Regions from separate parts of the Homo sapiens genome. Here region 1 is linked to region 2. A link means that fine-mapping ties the variant in region 2 to the expression of a gene that starts in the linked region. Tissue or cell type: tibial artery. Region 2 holds a variant in brackets; the other region holds the start of a gene. All regions are shown on one strand. Distances are from middle to middle.

Evidence for each region. PIP is the estimated chance that this variant, and not a neighbour inherited with it, causes the effect.
Region 1: AHCYL1 starts here. The variant in region 2 is fine-mapped to the expression of AHCYL1 in tibial artery (GTEx, PIP 0.98).

The regions. Positions count from the first base shown.
Region 1 is chr1:109,979,325-109,990,199 of GRCh38, forward strand. It overlaps AHCYL1 (adenosylhomocysteinase like 1), which reads left to right and starts at 5,441. Exons shown (of 17, transcript NM_006621.7): 1 at 5,441-5,848. The coding sequence starts at 5,729. RefSeq lists silencers at 5,667-5,736, 5,917-5,986.
Region 2 is chr1:109,923,515-109,934,279 of GRCh38, forward strand. CSF1 (colony stimulating factor 1) reads left to right here. Exons shown (of 9, transcript NM_000757.6): 6 at 1-676; 7 at 1,262-1,314; 8 at 1,633-1,688; 9 at 5,338-7,478. The coding sequence ends at 1,675. Among named protein-coding and RNA genes, the nearest start is that of CSF1, 18 kb to the left of the region's middle. RefSeq lists an enhancer at 7,562-8,510 and a silencer at 7,634-7,848. The variant G/A (reference allele first, on the strand shown) is at 4,628.

The DNA of each region.
Region 1 (10,875 bases), 56 kb after region 2:
CCAGGAAAGCAGCAATTTCTCATGGCTGGGGCAGTGTCAGCCCTCCCTTTTGAGGAAACACATCCACATGTCAACAAGTACTCAAAACCAGCAATGACAATCCTTTCCTGCAGCAGACGGGTTTCTGCTTATTCCTGTCATTCCGGGAAGCGGAGCGAAGAGAGAATTCCAAATTCTCAACAATAGCTCCTTTGCCCTCCATGGTTAGCCTGGACCCACATCTTAGTACCTTACATTTGCACAATATTTGCAACTTGTTCAAAGCTTTTGCATATTTATGATCTTACTGGATTAGGTCATTACAAGCCCCAGATGGAGAGCTATCAACCTGTCTTGCATGAGGAAGAGGAGGTCAAAAAAGGTCCAGGATGCCAGTGGCCAAGTTAGTAGCAGAGTGAAGATTTGAGCCCACATCTCTGCCCAGTTTTCCTGCTTCCTCACACCATGCAGCCTCGCCATGAGTCAGCTATCACGAGTTCCAGACACAGGACCTCAGATCCTCTAGGGCCAAAAGGTGCCTCCTTATCCTGGTCCTTGTTTACAGTCATTATAACTGCCCCCACTACTTACATTTTTGCTCCCTTTCTCTGGCAGGAGCTGGTGCTGTGACCCATCTTCGCCTGTTTTGCTTGAAAGCCATCCCCACACCCACTCCGAAACCACCTCCCTCCATTCCATTATATTGCACTAGTTGGAAACAATTCAAATACCGAACAATAGGAAAACAGTTAAGCAAACTCATAAAGCAATATGACAGAAAGCTTGGAAAACATGGACAATAATAACAAGTATGTCAATGCTCTCCGTTCGGGTCATGTGTTTTTGAAATATTGTAATTTGATCAAAGCAGAATACAAAAGGACATGAACCTACCAATCACAGGTATGTAAAAATGAGTTTCTGCAAATTGCTAAGAACTAGGAGTGAACTTAACAAGATGAAAAGAAATTTTTAAAAAATCTTCATGGATTTTTCTTTCCTATAATGTTCAAAATGATAATAAAGAGTAAGTGATCCTAATAAATATGACAATAATAAGCAGAGGGGGAGACAGAGAAGGAGGAATGTTTTCCCACTGGAACTGGAGAAGGGGAAGGAGAAAAGGCTGAGGGTAGGGAGGGAGGGAGCTCGGTGGGAAGTAGGAGCCAGGAAGCCTGAGGACCAGCACCCACAGCCACAGAGGTGCAACCGGGAGCCCACCCTCTGGGGGTCCCTAAGGGCCAGCGAGGTAGGTGACCAATCTGAAGTGGTGCTCCAGGGCACCTTTCACAATAATTACAATGTCAGTGGTGCCTCCTAGAGCTGTGCAAGGTAGCAGTTCTGGGACAGAAAGAAGCCTGGAGCTGGAGGGTTTGCCCATGCTGGAGAGCTAGAGACAGAGCCACTGCCCTCTTCACCTTCTTCCGAACTTCCATTGTCACCCAAGATCTCTGCAGTTTTTCTGCACTTTCATTCCAGAGGGCTAACATAACACCTGGCCGACAGGAGGTGAAAGGCCTTCAGGAGGAGCACAGCCTCCCCCTGGTGGGGAGCCTGACTGGCAGGGAGCGGGCAGTTCCAAAAGGTGCCAACCTGGGCTCCCCTGAGACTCAGGGACAGTGCCCTCCACAGACATATCAAACTCAACATGTCCCAAGCTGACTCCTCTCAGCAGCCCCCCTCCACCCCTCTAGCCACACTTGCTTCTCCTCCTGTGCTCCCCAGCATGGCAGACATCACCACCACCCACCCAGGGCTTAACACGCCCTGCAGGATCTGGCCCTGGCTTCAGCGCTCACTTCACCCTGCTTTGCACCCTGTGCCCCACCCACATGGGGATATTTACAGTTCCCGTAATATGCCAAGCTGTTTCCATCACCATGCCTATTCTCAGGCTGTTTCTTCAGCCTGGAGAATCTTCCCTCCCTTGCCCAGCTGCTTATCTGTCAAGACTCAGCTCTGGCAGCATCTCCCTCTGTGTCATCCCTTTGCCCTCCACTGCACCCCACCCCCATCACCTGTCCCCACGTAGAGATCAGCACCTCAGCTTATTTATCTCTGTAGTCCCGACTGACATCTAGCCCTGCTGCTGGCACTTCTTCGGCACTCAATATATATTTTATAAATAAAAGAACAAATGACTGAATGTAGAACATCAATTTGGGGGTGGACAAACAGTGAATCTGATTAACAAGACCAAGCCCACGTGTGGTAGCCCAATGCCACTACATTTCTGGTGACAGCATCTCCCAATTCACCACTGCCCTTAGGCCACTCCTTTCTAGCAAGGGTCTTCGCTCCAGGCCCTTGGAGACTTCCCACCACCACACACAGCAGGTGCATCTGTCTTTGGGTCCCTGTTCTTCTCCAATTGCCCCGTGGGGGGTCTCTCACCTGTGTGTGGATGCGCTGTTCAGGGCAGTGAGCTTGCCAGTAGAGGTGCTGAGTCAGGTGGGTGGGTAGGCTGAAGACAAGTCATCTCTTGGCATTCATGAGAAGCAATCGCCTTAGCTGTGCCATGTGAGGCTATCTTAGGATGGGTTTTGGGGGTGGGAGACAGGATGCAATGATTCTCACGGATGTTATGTTGTCACACTCCCTGGCTGGGTGAGCTCTTTGCTCTCCAGCACACACGTGATGGAAGGGATGGCAGCCACCCATGCCCCCTGCAGTGGCTGGTTTCCAAGAATGTCCCGGGCCCCTGGCCTCACTTGAACCACATAGGCCTAATGCTTTCCACCAGGGTAGGGGGTGCTGCCCTTCCCCTTTCCAGTCTGAGTCCCCGAACTCTCCTACATCAGCTCATCAACCTCCCCTCAGGCCAGCCACTCAGGTGAGTGGAGTCTGACCTGCTGATCTCCTTCTTAGCCCAGACTGCTAAGGTACTGCATGCTCTAGGCCTGGCCCTGTCTGTCATCCTCTGTAGCAGCAGCAATAGCAGACAACACTGTGAGCCTGGTGCTAGGGCAGACCTGGTCCAGGAGGAGTAAAGACTGAACTTCAATCTCCAGGAAGCTCACAGTCTGGATGCTTAAATGCACAGCAGAACTGGGGGACTGAGAGACAACATGTTTAGACAAAGTGAGTTCTAAAAATCAAATCCAAAAGACAGATACACTGATGCTTCTCTTTAAAAAAAAAAAAAAAAAAAAAAAAAAGATCTTCTTAAGTCACACATTTTTCTACTATAGGGACTTGAGATTTCATCCCTGGTTCCAATGGGTTCTGCCTCGAGTCTTTGGGCAGGCATCTCTGATCCCTGGGCTCTGCCAACAGTTTGGGCAAACCCACAAGGATGAAAGCCACTGTGAGCCTTATGTTCAGAGAGTCCTTAGTGCACCAGGTGTGGTTCCTGACCCCTAGCTGAAAGATGTCAGTCTGGCACCCTCATGGATGAACCTGGTATTCTGGTCTCCATCTCTGTTCCCGTTCTGCTACAGTGATGCCCCTGACAGGGAAGTGTGAGTGCTCAAAAAAGTGAGCAGATGAAAGAATACAAACAGTTCAAGACCAAGGTCTGCAGATGTGCAAAGGGTGCATTCTTCCAGGCACTTCTACAGCCCTTTTCAAACAGACAGTCTCATGAGGCTAGGTGGCTGGAACACAGGATTCCCTGACTAAGACTTTTAGGGCCCTAGAGGTGAATATTTCACACTCTCCCCAGCCCTGAACACAAATCAGTGGGGAAAATGCCATTTCAAACCAAAACTTCCTTCTTGAAAGGGTATGCCCTGTTAAAAACCTGGGAGGTTTCTGGATGTTAAAAGGTGGTCCTGGCCAGGCGCGGTGGCTCACGCCTGTAATCCCAGCACTTTGGGAGGCCGAGGCAGGTGGATCACGAGGTCAGGATCCGAGACCAGCCTGGCCAAGATGGTGAAACCCCGTCTCTACTAAAAATACAAAAATTAGCCGGGCACGGTGGCGCACGCCTATAGTCCCAGCTACTCACTCAGGAGGCTGAGGCAGGAGAATCACTTGAACCCGGCAGGCGGAGGTTGCAGTGAGCTGAGAGCACTCCAGCTTGGGCAACAGAGCGAGACGTCATCTCAAAAAAAAAAAAAAGGTGGTCCTGGGGAGGAATTTAGGGAAAGGGCACTGGGAAGACTGGAATTGCTCAGCACAGCAGAGGAGAATCTGGCTTCCCAGAGTCTATCAAGGAAGGAAGGATGAGGTGCAGAGATGGGAAGGGAGGAACAGGAGGAAGCTAGATTAGATGGCAATGGGCTAGGGAGCGTGGTGGGATCTTGTGGCCATTGAGAAATCCCCGGGTGGTAAGACAGCCAAAATAACTTTTCAGAACATTTCAGAAATGTGTTCTTAAATTGTTTGCTGTGTGATGTAATCTCTCCCCTGTGACCCACAAACCTTTATTAAAAGTTTTACTACATGTTACAGCCTTATTTTGTAGTTGTTTAGCATGGGGTGGGGGTTGAAAGGAGAAGCGGCTGAATTGACCCCAGGAGCTACAGAAACAGTCACAAGACCAGAATAGTGAATAAAATGCCAGACAAGGCAAAAAAACTAGAGCCAGAGGTGACCATGAAAATCCAAGTCCTCCCAGTAATGGACTTTCCACAGGACATGGTAATTGGAGCCAATGTCATTTGAATCTCAAAGGACAAGCTACCTCAGCTGACATTAGGATACAAGCAGGTTTTGCCTCTCCAGCTGAACTAAGCCTTGCAAAACATAAAATGCGTCACATGTCCTTTTGCCAGCAGGGCCTCAGCACAGGCACTGCACATAGTAGGCCCAGTAAAAGGGTGTGAGCAGTCCATGAATGTCCTGGATGCCCACTGAGAGCTGGAAGGGTCTAATGCTTTGGTGGAGCAAGGACCGGAAGGCCATTCTGGCTGGGGACTTCTCCATCAGCTCTCCTGGTCTCCACCCTCATACCCATCAGCCCTATCCCAATGAGGGTTTTGTAAACAGGCAAGGCCCAGTCGGAGATGGTGGTGGAGGAAGTCACAAAGCGTTGTGCAGAAACCAGACTACTCTGAGTCAGTTCTGCCCCCTATGAAGTCAAAAAGACAGGCACGGCCCCTTGGGAAGGAGCTTTAATCCAAAGGGCCTGGGGCTGGGCCAGTGAGTGAGTGGGCTGTCTCGAGCCCCGGACATTTCCTAGGAATCGCTGTAGGATGTGTCGTGTGGGGCTCTGGTCTTTGCTCCCAAACACCCCTTTCATGCGCCTCTGAGGCCTTGCCAGGAACCCCGCAGCCCAAAGACCCTCCGTTCCGCAGCATCGTTGCATGAACCTCGCGCTGCTCCCAGGGCTGATGGTGCCACCTGGTGGCACAAAGGGTCCTGCTCACCCTGGGAACTTCGCTCTCGAGCGGGAGAGGAACGGCTTCTGTGGCCCAGCCCAGCGTGGTGACGTCACGACAGAGTGCCCTTTCTCCCCGCCTCTTCCCCCTCCCGGGAGCTGCCAGTACTTGACGTGGCGTCACCGCCCTCTACCCTCGCTTTGCGTGCGTGTTTGCGTACAGCGGAGGTGGCGGCGCGGGCAGGTCGGAGCTCGGAGCTGCTGTTCTGGTTCTCTTGTGGCCGCCGTCGCTGTCCGGCTGCCTTGGGCTGCCGAACAGACAAGGCGTGGGCCACAGCACCTCAGAAGCCGACGCAGCTCGACGCAGGGGCCGGCAGGAGGGTGGGCGATCGCGTGTCGGAGGGCGCCGCGCGGGCAGGCGGGCGGGCGCCAGAGGGGGAAAGAGGCGGGGGCGGCGGGTCAGCCGCTGGCCGGGCCGGCCGGGGAATGTCGATGCCTGACGCGATGCCGCTGCCCGGGGTCGGGGAGGAGCTGAAGCAGGCCAAGGAGATCGAGGACGCCGAGAAGTACTCCTTCATGGCCACCGTCACCAAGGCGCCCAAGAAGGTGCGGGGGCTCTGGGTGGCGGCGGGGGCTCGGGCTCCGGCCTCGCGGAAGGGACGCGAGCAAGCCCGGGCTCTGGCTAGTTTGGGACTTCTGGGGGTGACTGGGGACGGCGGAGGTGATGTAGGGGGTGGCGGCTGTGCGGCCCCAGGCCTCTCCCGGGCTGAAAGGCCGCCTCTGACCTCGCTTTCCTTTGTCCCTCGGCCCAAGTCCTCCGGGATCGTTTTGAAACCCGACAGGGCCAGGCCTTAAATTTGCGACTGACTTTTCCTGGATGAAGGGCCTCGAAGACGAGAGTGGGAGGGGGTGAACCAACTCAGCTGACCCTTGTGACCAGTCCGGGGGCATGGGGTGTACAGAAAATCTCCCTTCAGGTGAGTGGGTAAATCTGGCAGAACTTCCATCAAATCTTTGGGAGCAGTGGCCGCTTTATCCAACAACTGCGTGATAGCTGGGAGGCAAGAGAAAAGAATGCGTGAAGCTAGCTCTGATATACAGGTGAAAGCGATGAGGGTAACATGAAACTGAAAATCTATGATTTTCACTTTCTACAGCATTCCAATTACTTCGAAATATGTAAGAAATTGACATTTGGAGGTTGGTGACAGCAGACACTGTCATGGATACAGGTGGATCCTAGAGTCATGTGAATAGATCACTTAGGCATCCCTGGAGAAAGGAGCTTGGGTGGGTTGGAGTAGTGGGTGGTAAGGGAAGATTGCTCACTCTTGACTGTACTTTTGAGGCAGAACAAGTTTGATCTATTGTGCTGTAGGTTGACTCAAAGGACACCCTTCGAATTCTCTCATAAATGGCAACCTTTGGAGATTTTAGTCTGACTAGCTCTCCGAGTGGTGGAATTGGGATCCTTATTGCTTTCTCATCATTTACTGCCAACCACATCTTGATTTTCCATACACCTGGCACCCAGTTAGCAGTAGACCAGAGAACCTTTACAAAGAGGTGACCTTCCTGAAGCCAGTGAGAACCCAGATAAATGTCTCCCTTCTTTATAAAGACAGAGTCTTACAAAGCTGTCTCTGCCTGCATCCAGTGTTTAATGGGATGCAGGGCTGAACAAAGCAAGGGCTGCAGGAATAGTTAAGTCCTTGAGGCTTCAACTAGTTAAGCTGTCTTAAGTGGGAGAGATGGCTCTTTTTTTTTTTTTTAAGTGAATTAACCTGCCACTCCAGAAATCAAATGCAAGATCAAAAAAGACGAGTCGCCATTGTGTGCTTTCGCTGTTTTCTCACAAAATTAAGAATTTAATTCCTTTAAAAGATTGTGGAAGATTCCTTGACTCTGAGGCATCTGATTAACTTTAGTGCTGAGAGTTCAGTTGACTGCTTTGTTGGGACAATGACCCTTTGCAATCTGCACTATTCTTTGGAGAAACAGTCACAGTCCTTATAAGCAGAATGATTGAGGGTGGGACCTTAGATGAGTTAGAGGAAAGAATGGGAAAGCCCTAATACCTGAATTTCCCAGACTCTGTCTTCTTTGCTGTTACTTGCCTTTATGTTAGTAAATCTGTATTCTTGAAAGTACCACTGTTGATAAGACAAAGTCTATATCGTAGATTGTAAAAACTCATTAAGGCAGGGATTCTTGTTCACCTTTGTATCCAGTGTGCCTAGCTTTGTACCCAGCATACAGTAGGTACTCAAATATTAATTGCTCACCTGGCTAACTAGTAACTGAGATGTCCATGTGGCCACCTACCATGAATAACTATCCCTTTTCCTCTCTTCTTCCCAGGAGGAATATTACTAATGTGTATTATTGTCAGGCCAAGTGCTGATGATTTTAGACTTATATTGCATTAGCTAAAAGAAGCAGGCTCTGCCAGGAATGTGGGAAGACCCTGTTTTAAGTTTCCATTTACCAGTAAATGTGCCCCACCGTGTTTCTTATTAATCTTTCTCTTCTAAGTTTTATTCTTTAGCATTTACGTAGTACTTTGTAATAAAGTGTTTCATGATGACTAATTACCCTTTCCCTAGTGATGATAAAAGACATTTATTAAGTTAATGGATCAGTTGAGGACTAGTCAAGGTCACATAGCAAGTCCTAGGCAATCTGTTTTTCAGAACTGCTGAATTGAACATTAAGACTTAAGTCACTTTTGTACCTCTGCCATGTGTTGATAACGTGAAAGCATGGGAAAAGTAAGAGGGAAAAAAGTAACTTGGCATGGTACTTAATGGTGTGAGAAAAAGACCTCTTCAAATGGTGCAGTCCTTCACCTATGAGAATTCTACCCTGGCTCTAGACCAGTAATCCTTGGATTATTCTGAAGCCCTGAGGCCCCTCAGGAATTGAGGATGTTCTTGATGCCAGAGGATATAGGTTACTTCAGGGTGACCTTGATGGTCCTCAGTTAGATCAGATCCCAGTGTCACTTTCTGGTCAGCTTTTATTCATTTTGTTTGCTTTGTTTGAGACAGAGTCAGCTTTTATTCATTTTGTTTGCTTTGTTTGAGATAGAGTGGATGTCCATCAATTAAAAGCATAAATATCTAGATTCTTCAGCTATAATCATGACTTACTCAGTTTTGTATGCCAAGGTCTATCACACTGCTATGAACAAAATAGGACTTGTTGGTTTGATTGAAGATTTGAGATGTCTGGGTGTCGAGAAGTCAACTAAAGGGATATGACCTTGAGCAAATTAATTAGCTTTTGTACCTGCATCTCCTCATCTGCCAAATAAGTGCCTATTTTTTTTGGAACAGGTGGAGATAGGGGCATGTTGGGGAGTTAAGATAGCAGTGTAATTTTTTAAAAGTCTATTCGTATATTTATATTCTTTCTTCAATGGGCATTTGAAGTGGCTTATAACACAGAACATATATGTGATATAAAAGGAAGTAAAAACTATAGAAAGAATGAAAAAAATATTGTTAACCTCGAGGGCTAAGATAGTTGATGAGGTTGATCACATGCAACTTGAAACTTTTAGCAGCCAGAGGATGAAAAGAATCATAGTTACAGTCTCCTTAGCAGGCATGGGAAATAATACATGTCAATTCCTCAAGGGGACGACTTTTCCTGACACAGAGTTCTAAAATAATTTTTCACGGGAATGTCTTAATAGCTGTAGTGTAATTCACATTGTAAGGCTTGTTCACGACTGTCACTGGTGATTTCAGATGGTATGGCTAGGAAAATTTGAGGTAAGAAAAGGAATCCTTGAGTTTTAAGAGTTAAGTGTACCACAACTGAAGAAGATCCTTGTTTAATGTTGGCAGTTATCGGTCAAACCAAGTAAGTAATCTAGTTCCCCATAACCACTGGTTATTTATCCCTCTTTTGCTGCTACTTTGTGTAACAGGAGTGGTAACTGTCCTTGGACCTTTGGAAATTGACACTGTGTCAAGTTGATTCTTTTTTCATAGTGTAAACCCAAATCTCCAACTTGTTGGAGAGCTCTTACAATAAGCATGTTTCTCCGGAAGGCCTTTCAGAACATTTGCTGTTCTCTGAACTTCTGAACATTAAAGGCACTCTCCAGAGTGATCCATTAAACATTTTGACCTAGGATCTGTGGAGTCAGACCCATCAGCAAAATGTGGGGAAGGAGAAGAGCACAGAAGAAACTACTTTTGTTTATAGGATATTCTTTATTTGAATGAAGCTATGTGCCACTAATTCATCAAAAGGGTCAGCTGAGACTTAGGAAGCACACCAAGTAGAGCCCCAATGGGTACAGCTTGGGTGTTAACCCGATAGGTAAAATCCAGGTTTCTCCTTTTGTCATCAGAGTTATCTTACGGTTAATTTTTGGTGCAGTTGTATAGAATTTACGCCAGGACTTGTCAGAATCACTGAAAGGAGATTTCATAGGTTGGCATTTCCTATCTTCACATCATTAGTATCTCTTGATTCTCCTTAGAGTGGCTGCTGTTGTAGTAGCAGTCTTTAAAACAGGAGTTGGGGTGTAAGAAGATCCTCTTTTTAAGATTTCTCCGCAGGTATTGATTACATCTCTTTTTCTTGTTTGGTTTAGTTAGTTACACTCTAGTTTCCAAATTACTTTGTTCCAAGTTTCTTTAGACATTTAGCTTGTAACAGAAATCTGTTAGAAGATTTCTAGATCAGTAGTTGTCTAGATCTTTTGCTGCCAAGGTTACAAATGTATACCTTTTCTTTTATCAGGAGTGTGTCATTTGGATCCAGAGTGTTTTACCCAATATAATATTCTTTTTTAAAATTTATTTTTATTTTTTATAGAGATGGGGAAATCCCTGTGTTGCCCAGGCTTGTCTTGAACTCCTGGGCTCAAGCGATCTTCCCACCTCAGCCTCCCGAAGTGCTGGGATTACAGGCAAGAGCCACCACGCCCACCCCAATATAGTATTCTTGGAAAGTTGTCTATAAAGGATATTTTGATACATGGAATCATGCAGGTCTTTAGTTGCCTGTGACTCCTAGCAAGTGTACTCTGCCACTCCGAGTAGTTAATGATCTGTAAATAAGCACTTTAATGCCCTCTTGGGGTTGTTTTAAAGGAACTGGCGAATAAAGGAGAATCATTTATACGTACCTGTTTCTCAAGTTTGGGAATGTGAGTATTGCATTTTTATAAAGAATGTCAACCCTGATTATACTGGATACATTTTATTATAATTTAGAACTGAATAGTAATTCAGAACACATGCTAATGAGGTGCGTCAGAAGCATTCCTGTCATGTGAAGGGCAACCTACGTGCATAGACCAGAATTTTTTCTAGCCTGAAATCTGAGAATCCCCAGTTGAAGACAAATTCTTACCACAAATTTTCCTTTTGATTATTGTCAATACTATCAGTGCCTATTGTGTAGTAAGCAGTTAATAAAAATTCACACAGAATTGCAGTTGCCTTTCCTTTTCTGATTCCATATTTTCCTTTGACTCACTCAAGTAGTTCTTTTGTCCCACTGTTGCTTGGCTGTTACATAAGACGCCTTTAACTTCCCGTTTCTGTTCCTAAAACTGTGAGTAGTAGTACAACATAAGGTAAGCACTGATTTTTGGAGTCAGTTTTACC
Region 2 (10,765 bases):
AATGGGCACTAATTGGGTCCCAGAAGAAGCCTCTGGAGAGGCCAGTGAGATTCCCGTACCCCAAGGGACAGAGCTTTCCCCCTCCAGGCCAGGAGGGGGCAGCATGCAGACAGAGCCCGCCAGACCCAGCAACTTCCTCTCAGCATCTTCTCCACTCCCTGCATCAGCAAAGGGCCAACAGCCGGCAGATGTAACTGGTACCGCCTTGCCCAGGGTGGGCCCCGTGAGGCCCACTGGCCAGGACTGGAATCACACCCCCCAGAAGACAGACCATCCATCTGCCCTGCTCAGAGACCCCCCGGAGCCAGGCTCTCCCAGGATCTCATCACTGCGCCCCCAGGGCCTCAGCAACCCCTCCACCCTCTCTGCTCAGCCACAGCTTTCCAGAAGCCACTCCTCGGGCAGCGTGCTGCCCCTTGGGGAGCTGGAGGGCAGGAGGAGCACCAGGGATCGGAGGAGCCCCGCAGAGCCAGAAGGAGGACCAGCAAGTGAAGGGGCAGCCAGGCCCCTGCCCCGTTTTAACTCCGTTCCTTTGACTGACACAGGCCATGAGAGGCAGTCCGAGGGATCCTTCAGCCCGCAGCTCCAGGAGTCTGTCTTCCACCTGCTGGTGCCCAGTGTCATCCTGGTCTTGCTGGCCGTCGGAGGCCTCTTGTTCTACAGGTGGAGGCGGCGGGTGAGTAGATCCCCATGAGGAAGAAGAGCACGTCCCTTAGGGCAGGGGCAGAGCCTGGCGGGGGTGCAGGTGGGGGGACAGCTTGGGTGCGGCCTGAGTTCTTCAGACACAGAGAGATAGGGGCTGGCTCAGCACAGAGGATGAGAGGTGGAAATGGAGGATTACTTCGAGAATTGGGAAGGTTCAAGCTATAAGGTCAATGGGAAGGGACTGGAGCAGAAGGGAGCGGGAGAGAATATTCATGGGCTGACAGCAGGATGATATCCAGACGGGCAGGGAGCTGGAGGAGGAGAGCAATGCTGTGTGAGCGTGTCAGGGCAGGCGTACACTGGAAGCTCTGCAGAGCCTGGGGCAGGAGGACCCATAGGGAACAGCCTGCAAGGGTGTGGGGAGAGGAGAGGGGACACCATCAGCAGAGAGACCTCACAAATCTCCCTTGGGCCTCTGGCTGATCCCCACTTTTGGGAAGTTGGGAGGACTCTTGCAACTCTCTCATAAATACCTGGGGCAGCCCTTACTGGGGATGGGCCACCGCCCCCCCACACTCCCCCAGCTCCTCAGTGAGATGCTCTTTCCTGTCCTCAGAGCCATCAAGAGCCTCAGAGAGCGGATTCTCCCTTGGAGCAACCAGAGGGCAGGTGAGAGCTTGAGGTGGGGCTCTGGGAGGCACTGGGGGCCTGGCTTGGGATCTGTTTCCCCTCTTCGTGGTGGTGGGGCTCTCCTGCTTGCTCTGAGGAAATGGAGCTGCAGAACAGGATGGGGGAGAGAAGAAGGGCCTCTGTCCTTTCCCAGATATCTGGGCTTTTTCCTGATTTCTCCGTAGAGTTAGACAGTTCTGGGTCTTTTCAATCTGAGAGGGCCTAGAGCATGTCTGGGGCTTAGGGGTAAACTTACGGAGTCCCCTTATTCCCCTGCTCCTGCTGATGTCTAATACCAGCCCTGTGCTCTGCCTGCAGCCCCCTGACTCAGGATGACAGACAGGTGGAACTGCCAGTGTAGAGGGAATTCTAAGGTAAGATTCTGACTTTGATCTCCACTCCTAAAACTTACCTATACCCTTTTCCAGTCACGTTCACCTGTTGGTGACACCAATTCCCCTGAGGCCCCCACACTGACTCCCATGCCTCTCTCCAGTTCCCTTTCCATACATCGCCAGCCAGGTCCAGCCACCCTCTCCTTTCCAGGTCCTCAGCTATCCCCCTGCCCCTCCATTCCATCCACCCCCGCTGAGGCCAGGGACTATTACCTCTGCATTGGGCTTCTAGTGTTGCTGCCACCTGTGACCTCAGAGCAACTAAACCCCCCTTTTTCAAATGTGGCCTTTATAAGGTCTTTACCCTCCTGGAGAATCTTCAGTAGCTCTGTGTGGCAGCCACTGCAAGCCCTATATTCTTGGCTTGGCTGCCAAGCCCCTTCGACAGCAGCTGCTTGCCAGATCGCCACCCCCGCACCAGTTAACCCTCCTCCCCAGCTGAGGTCAGTTCTGCTTCCTTGCTTTTAGGATCATGTTGACATAGAACCTGAGTCTTGGAAGGGCTCTCAGGGGTCATTTGGCCCTGGTTCCCACCCCAAAGGGACTGCCCCTCTCCATGTCCCCAACAGGGAGCCAGCCAGCTGGCTGTCACACACTCCCAGATCCAGCCCAGCTCCCTGCCTAGCCACAGCCCATGCCATCTTCCAGTCAGACTGGGAGAAACGTCTTCCTCATGCGAGGCAAAACTGGCTTCCCTGCCCCCTCCATACTGCTCCTCCCTCCTGTTCTCATGAAAACCCTCAGATATTTCAAGTCAGGTATCCATGTCCCCTTTGAGAATTCTCTAAGCTAAGTATGGCCAAGTCCCTCAAACGTTCCTTATATGATATGGTTTTCAGACCCCTCACCATCCTGGACACACTCGTTTGTCAATGTCCCTCTGAAAATGTGACGCCCAGCCCCGGACACAGTACTCCAGATGTTGTCTGACCAGCTCAGAGAGAGTACAGTGGGACTGTTACCTTCCTTGATATGGACAGTATTCTTCTATTTGTGCAGATTAAGATTGCATTAGTTTTTTTCTTAACAACTGCATCATACTGTTGTCATATGTTGAGCCTGTGGTCTATTAAAACCCCTAGTTCCATTTCCCATAAACTTCTGTCAAGCCAGACCATCTCTACCCTGTACTTGGACAACTTAACTTTTTTAACCAAAGTGCAGTTTATGTTCACCTTTGTTAAAGCCACCTTGTTGGTTTCTGCCCATCACCTGAACCTACTGAAGTTGTGTGAAATCCTAATTCTGTCATCTCCGTAGCCCTCCCAGTTGTGCCTCCTGCACATTGATGAGTGCCTGCTGTTGTCTTTGCCCATGTTGTTGATGTAGCTGTGACCCTATTGTTCCTCACCCCTGCCCCCCGCCAACCCCAGCTGGCCCACCTCTTCCCCCTCCCACCCAAGCCCACAGCCAGCCCATCAGGAAGCCTTCCTGGCTTCTCCACAACCTTCTGACTGCTCTTTTCAGTCATGCTCCTCCTGCTCTTTTGTATTTGGCTAATAGTATATCAATTTGCACTTATTTGGATGTTGTTTTCATATTTTTTAAAATCTTATTTTATATGTATTGTACATTCCACATCCCTAAGATTGTAAGCCCCTTGAGGGCAGGGACTGTCTTCCACTTTTTTTTGTGTTTCTTTTTCCATCCTGGGTTCTACTAAGAGAGGGCCTCTCCACATTTGCCAAACATGCAATAAATGTTGACTGACTGGCTTCAGGGCTGACTCACGGACTGACCCTGGCCAGCTGTCTCTAACTGACCAGCCTCTAGCTGACCAGTTAACCAGCTAACTGACTGACTCTGACTGACTGGCTGACCAGCTGGCTGGGTGAATGACTAACCAACCAACTATCTTGGTAACTGCCTAACTGACCAGCTGTTGCTTGGGGAGCCCATTGAGCAACTGACTAGCTGATTGCCTGACTAATTGGCTGGTTGGCTGACTAGCTGGGGTGACCCAGTCAAGTTTCCAGTCACATCCTTTACCAAGTGCAAGCCAGTGCCGCAGGGCTCTCCCATGTGTGGAGTGACAGGTCTGGGCCCCTTCTAGAGAGATAGGGAATTTGGCAAATGCTCAAAACCAGGGGAACCTATTTAGACAAGAACCAGCAGTAACAACATATCTGGAATCCTGGGGTCTACCTTGTCAGTGGGGTGGGCTAAGATGGGTGAGTGGGTCAGCTGGGGCACTGGCAAGACTGTGAAATGACCCAGGCCTCCTCAGAACTGGTTGCTGGTGGCTCAGTGCCACAACACCCTTCCCACGGGTCGTCTGTCCCCAAACCCCTCGCCGTGGTCTTGGCCCTCTGTCCCACCCCTCTACACGCCCACCCTCCTTTCCCCACTTGCTTATTCTCAGGCCCGTCCCAAGCTTTCCTCTTCCCCCTCAAGATTTCACTTGGAGAGGGAATCCAGGGCAGGGGCTACATCCAGATCCCACTTGGCCCGGCAGGTCCAGCCCTAAGGTGGTCTCCAGGCCAGGCACCAGTGGCCTTGGAGAGATTGAGTGCCAGCCCCTAGAGTGACTGCTGCTGTGATTTGAGAAGTGAGAGAGAGAAACATAGAGGCAGAGACTGAGATAGGGACTCAGAGCCACAGAAAATGCAGACACCAGCACCTCAGCCCTAAGCAGCTAGAAGATGGGGCAGCAGGCTGGAACTCGCTCACTGGGTCCTTCTCCCCTCCTGGGCCCTAGCTGGGCCTGTGGCCTGGCTGTACCCAGCATGGCTCATGTCCAGTTTATGGTTCCCCTTCTTTCCCTCTAGAGCATGGGAATGGGCAGGGAGCCAGAGGCTGTGGTTCCATCTTCCCTCCTTACCCAGTAGGGCCTATGGATGTTAGGGAGGGAGGCTCCACACAAGGTCCAAAGTCAAACTGTTGGATGGGGTCCAGGGGATTTCTGCTCTGGGAACAAA[G/A]CGTCCTGAGGATGCTGGGCAAGAGGACAAGGATGGGGGTGGAAGGCGAGAGGACAAGGCCCTGACTCCCATGGATGATGCGGGAGGCAAGGCCCTCGGCCCATCCAGGAGGGGCTGGGTTGCTTAGGGGTCGCGTGCCAAATGACAGTGTGGGAATTTCCTTGTCCTGGCACTGCCTCTAGACTTTTCCTCTCTGGCCCAAGTTGTTCCTCTTCAGCTAGCTCTGCCCTACTGTCTTGAACATCATATGTGATGCCCCTCTGATGAAATGAAAGATTCTTCTTTGCTAGTGTTAGCAGGAATCACCCTTTGTTCACTGGACCAAGGCCAATGAGATGACCTCGCCTGAGGAGGGGTCCAAAGACATTCAAGTGCCCGCTTCGCTCCTTGTCAGAGCCCTCTGCTTGAGCAGTAACCCCTCTTCCCAGCCCTGCCCAGACCTCTCCCGGGCCCCGTTATCTTCCACTGAGGCCCTGATTCCCCAGGAGGAGGTAGGAGGTGAGGCCAGTTGGGCCAGAGGCCTGGGCTGGTGCCAGAGAAAGCTGCCTGGTCTCTCTGTGGTGTCTGGAAAGGCCAGGGAAGGGAGGAAAGGAAGTCCTGCCTGCAGCACCGCCAGCAGCCCACAGGAATGCCACACCTCCCAATCCATGTCCTCAACGACCCTCCCCGCATTCCCACTCTGCTGACTAGCCTTTCCTTCTCTCCCACAGCTGGACGCACAGAACAGTCTCTCCGTGGGAGGAGACATTATGGGGCGTCCACCACCACCCCTCCCTGGCCATCCTCCTGGAATGTGGTCTGCCCTCCACCAGAGCTCCTGCCTGCCAGGACTGGACCAGAGCAGCCAGGCTGGGGCCCCTCTGTCTCAACCCGCAGACCCTTGACTGAATGAGAGAGGCCAGAGGATGCTCCCCATGCTGCCACTATTTATTGTGAGCCCTGGAGGCTCCCATGTGCTTGAGGAAGGCTGGTGAGCCCGGCTCAGGACCCTCTTCCCTCAGGGGCTGCACCCTCCTCTCACTCCCTTCCATGCCGGAACCCAGGCCAGGGACCCACCGGCCTGTGGTTTGTGGGAAAGCAGGGTGGACGCTGAGGAGTGAAAGAACCCTGCACCCAGAGGGCCTGCCTGGTGCCAAGGTATCCCAGCCTGGACAGGCATGGACCTGTCTCCAGAGAGAGGAGCCTGAAGTTCGTGGGGCGGGACAGCGTCGGCCTGATTTCCCGTAAAGGTGTGCAGCCTGAGAGACGGGAAGAGGAGGCCTCTGGACCTGCTGGTCTGCACTGACAGCCTGAAGGGTCTACACCCTCGGCTCACCTAAGTGCCCTGTGCTGGTTGCCAGGCGCAGAGGGGAGGCCAGCCCTGCCCTCAGGACCTGCCTGACCTGCCAGTGATGCCAAGAGGGGGATCAAGCACTGGCCTCTGCCCCTCCTCCTTCCAGCACCTGCCAGAGCTTCTCCAGGAGGCCAAGCAGAGGCTCCCCTCATGAAGGAAGCCATTGCACTGTGAACACTGTACCTGCCTGCTGAACAGCCTGCCCCCGTCCATCCATGAGCCAGCATCCGTCCGTCCTCCACTCTCCAGCCTCTCCCCAGCCTCCTGCACTGAGCTGGCCTCACCAGTCGACTGAGGGAGCCCCTCAGCCCTGACCTTCTCCTGACCTGGCCTTTGACTCCCCGGAGTGGAGTGGGGTGGGAGAACCTCCTGGGCCGCCAGCCAGAGCCGGTCTTTAGGCTGTGTTGTTCGCCCAGGTTTCTGCATCTTGCACTTTGACATTCCCAAGAGGGAAGGGACTAGTGGGAGAGAGCAAGGGAGGGGAGGGCACAGACAGAGAGGCTACAGGGCGAGCTCTGACTGAAGATGGGCCTTTGAAATATAGGTATGCACCTGAGGTTGGGGGAGGGTCTGCACTCCCAAACCCCAGCGCAGTGTCCTTTCCCTGCTGCCGACAGGAACCTGGGGCTGAACAGGTTATCCCTGTCAGGAGCCCTGGACTGGGCTGCATCTCAGCCCCACCTGCATGGTATCCAGCTCCCATCCACTTCTCACCCTTCTTTCCTCCTGACCTTGGTCAGCAGTGATGACCTCCAACTCTCACCCACCCCCTCTACCATCACCTCTAACCAGGCAAGCCAGGGTGGGAGAGCAATCAGGAGAGCCAGGCCTCAGCTTCCAATGCCTGGAGGGCCTCCACTTTGTGGCCAGCCTGTGGTGGTGGCTCTGAGGCCTAGGCAACGAGCGACAGGGCTGCCAGTTGCCCCTGGGTTCCTTTGTGCTGCTGTGTGCCTCCTCTCCTGCCGCCCTTTGTCCTCCGCTAAGAGACCCTGCCCTACCTGGCCGCTGGGCCCCGTGACTTTCCCTTCCTGCCCAGGAAAGTGAGGGTCGGCTGGCCCCACCTTCCCTGTCCTGATGCCGACAGCTTAGGGAAGGGCAGTGAACTTGCATATGGGGCTTAGCCTTCTAGTCACAGCCTCTATATTTGATGCTAGAAAACACATATTTTTAAATGGAAGAAAAATAAAAAGGCATTCCCCCTTCATCCCCCTACCTTAAACATATAATATTTTAAAGGTCAAAAAAGCAATCCAACCCACTGCAGAAGCTCTTTTTGAGCACTTGGTGGCATCAGAGCAGGAGGAGCCCCAGAGCCACCTCTGGTGTCCCCCCAGGCTACCTGCTCAGGAACCCCTTCTGTTCTCTGAGAAGTCAAGAGAGGACATTGGCTCACGCACTGTGAGATTTTGTTTTTATACTTGGAAGTGGTGAATTATTTTATATAAAGTCATTTAAATATCTATTTAAAAGATAGGAAGCTGCTTATATATTTAATAATAAAAGAAGTGCACAAGCTGCCATGTGAGTCGTGGGAAAGTTGCTTTTGGGGTGTGGGTGGCAAACATCAGGGTGGGTGGGCAGCAGTTGCCGGATGAACCCCAGCTCAGAGAACCTTTTTCCACAAAACACAGGGGAGGAAGGTTCTCTCCAAGTTTCAGTCTTGGTACCAAAACCTCCTGTATTATTGCTGTCCCAAACACATTCATCTGCATATCTGCTCGTATTGGGCAGAAAGTGGCCAAACATCAGGCCTGGTCACTGGCCCCTGCTCCTGCCCAGCCTAGCCCAGCCTGGGAAAATGGCTGGTTGGGCTCTGTCCAAGGGCCCCGGCGGCCTGCAAGGATAAGGCTCCTTGACTGCTGAGCCCTGCTGACCAGGGCAGAGGTTGCTGGCTAGGTCCTTGCAGACTCTGAGGTGAATGAATTCTGTTTCCAGGCTGGGAAGTGAGTGTGGTTAGCAGGGGAGAGCCAGGAGTCCGTGTAAGGGCCCTCGTTCGGGCTCGACCTTCCTACTGGAGCTGGAGAGGAGACTGAGGGTGTGGCTTTCCATGGGGAGAGGGGTGTTAGGCAGGGCCAGAGGAGTTGAAGGCCCAAACATACACCCTGGGCAAAGCTATGACAAGAGGGGCCTCCCCATCCCTGAGGGAGTGGTAGACAGCTTTGGATTAGTGGTTCCCAACACTGGCTTCCGGGAGAATCACCTGGATTGTTTAAAAAAAATACTGATCCCCGAGCCCCACCCTAGATCAACAAAATCGAATCTTAGGGGTGAGGCTCAGGCACCAGATGTCAGAACTTTTAAAAGACATCTCAGGTGATTCCAATGTGATCCAGGATAAGAAGTATCTAGAGCTGCACTGTCAGGTAGGGTGGCTATTTAAGTTTAAATTAATTAGAATGAAATAAAAGTAAACATTCAGTTCCTTACCTGTACTATCCACATGTCAAGGGCTCAGTAACTACATGTGGCTACCATGTTGGACAGCACAGAAATACAACATTTGCATCATTCCAGAAATTCTACTGGACAGTGCTACCCCAAAGATTAGGTCCTTGGACTTAGGGACCAAGGATACAGGGCCAAGATTGGCATCAAGCACATTTGACCAGGGGCTAGGTGTTCAGGTGTCTCAGTCACCCCTTTCTGTGCCCTCACCCCTGCCACCCTGTCCCTTGTCATTTCCCTTAAGATGGCTCTTCCCTTTCTATCAAAAGAGCTACAGAAAAGATTTTTGAAGAAACTTACATTTTATCCTTCAAGGCCCCTCTGAGAAGCCTTCCCAGCCTGACTCAAGCTCCTGAGGCCCACCCAGGTTCAATTCCTTCCTCCCCTGTGCTTCTACAGATTTGGAATTTGGAATCTGTTTGTCTGTCTGTCCCACCAGGCCATGGTCAGTGGCAGACACTGCTACATCCCTCCTTTTATTAAAGGGGGACATGCGCCTAGTGCCTTAGCGCCTAAGAGTATCTGGCACACAGTAGGTGCTCAGTAACTGTGTGCCAAAGGTTAATACTTAAAGCATGAACAGAGGCATCATAATGCAAATTCTGACCAGACGTAAGGGGTGGCCTTTTCTAGAGGCCTTATTGGTATTAGCAAATGAGATTAGTATCTAATAACTACTGTTCAATGGCCAAGCAGAAGGATTTTCAGCAGAGGAGTCTTCCTGGCTTCTGACAGAAATGGGGCTAGTTAGAGCCCTTCCTGATCACTGGGCTGTGGTGGATGGAATGTACACTTCAAAGCCTCTAAGCAAGGATTGGTGATGAGGACAGCAAAGACCCCTTCCCCTTAGCTGCCTCTCTGGAACCCCCAGAAAGACCTGAGAATCTCGGCAGGCCTTTCCTGGGCTTCATGTGCTGCAGGGGCTGCTTGGGAAGCATCATACCTATAGAGCAATATTCGCTTTGAATTGAGAACCAGAGAACTGGCTGAGCGTGGTGGCTTATACCTGTAACCCCAGCGCTTTAGGGAGGCTGAGGTGAGAGGATCACTTGAGCCCAGGAGTTTGAGATCAGCCTGGGCAACATAATGAGACTCCATTTCTACAAACAAAAACTAGCCAGATGCGGTGGCACACACCAGTAGTCCCAGCTACATGGGAGACTGAGATGGGAGGATAGCTTGAGCCAGAAGGTTGAGGCTGCAGTCAACCCAGATCATACCACTGTACCTCAGCCTGGGAAATGAAGCAAGACCCTGTCTCAAAAACACCAAAACCCAAAAAACAACAGAAATTGGGTTCTTGGCTTGAATCTCTCACTGGCTCTTACTGTTTGACCTTGAGTAAGTATTTAACCTCTCTGAGCCTCAGGTTTCTCCTCATCTGTAGAACTAGTTTAAGAGTACAAACCAGGTGGCTGGGTGCAGTGGCTCACACCTGTAATCCCAGCACTTTGGGAGGCCAAGGCGGGCTGATTACTTGAGGTCAGGAGTTCAAGACCAGCCTGACCAACATGGTGGAACCCCATCTCTACTAAAAATACAAAAATTAGCCGGGCATAGTGGTGCACGCCTGTAACCTCAGCTGCTTGGGAGGCTGAGGCAGGAGAATCACTTGAACCCGGGAGGCAGAAGTTGCAGTGAGCCGAGATCGTGCCACTGCACTCCAGCCTGGGCAACAGAGCAAGACTCCGTCTCAAAAAAAAAAAGGAAGAGTGCAAACCAGGTATACCTGGACTGCAGTTCAAATAAAATGACAAACCCAAAAGCACTTTGTGGGCTCCAAAGGGCTGCCCCTGAATCAAGTGTGTATTGATACTGTGCCTGCCAGCTGGTCCAACAGTGCCCAAGCCAAACAGAGAGCTCCCCTCTGGGCAAGCCCTGGGCACCAGCATGCTACCAGGGCCTGGCTGTTCTCAGAGGAAGGTGGCAGAGCTGGGTGCTTCCCACAGGGATGAGTAGTTAGAGATCTTGTTGCTCAGGTATTTCTGGCTGACAAGAAGAGCCAGGTAGGAGACTGGAGTGGAAAGTGGCCTTGGGTTGCTACGGGTGCCGGTGAGCAGGCAGGGTCAGGAACTCTGGCTTGGACTATATAAGCAGAGGCCACGGCCAAACCCCAAACCACTATCCGGCCAGAGGCAGGAAAGTGAATCAGAGGAGACGAGGAAGAAGCCTGAGGTTAACCTCGTGCAGACTGTGGGCCGTGGCAAGAAAGGAGTTGGTGACAGGACTAGATGCAGGGCCTGGGTGGGTGTCCAAAGACCCCTTGAATAAGGCACTAAAGTCATTTGGTGAAGGCAGTGGCCAGGGAGCCCTGAAGAAAAAAAGCCACATTTCCCAGTGAGCACATGTCCCCTGCCCCA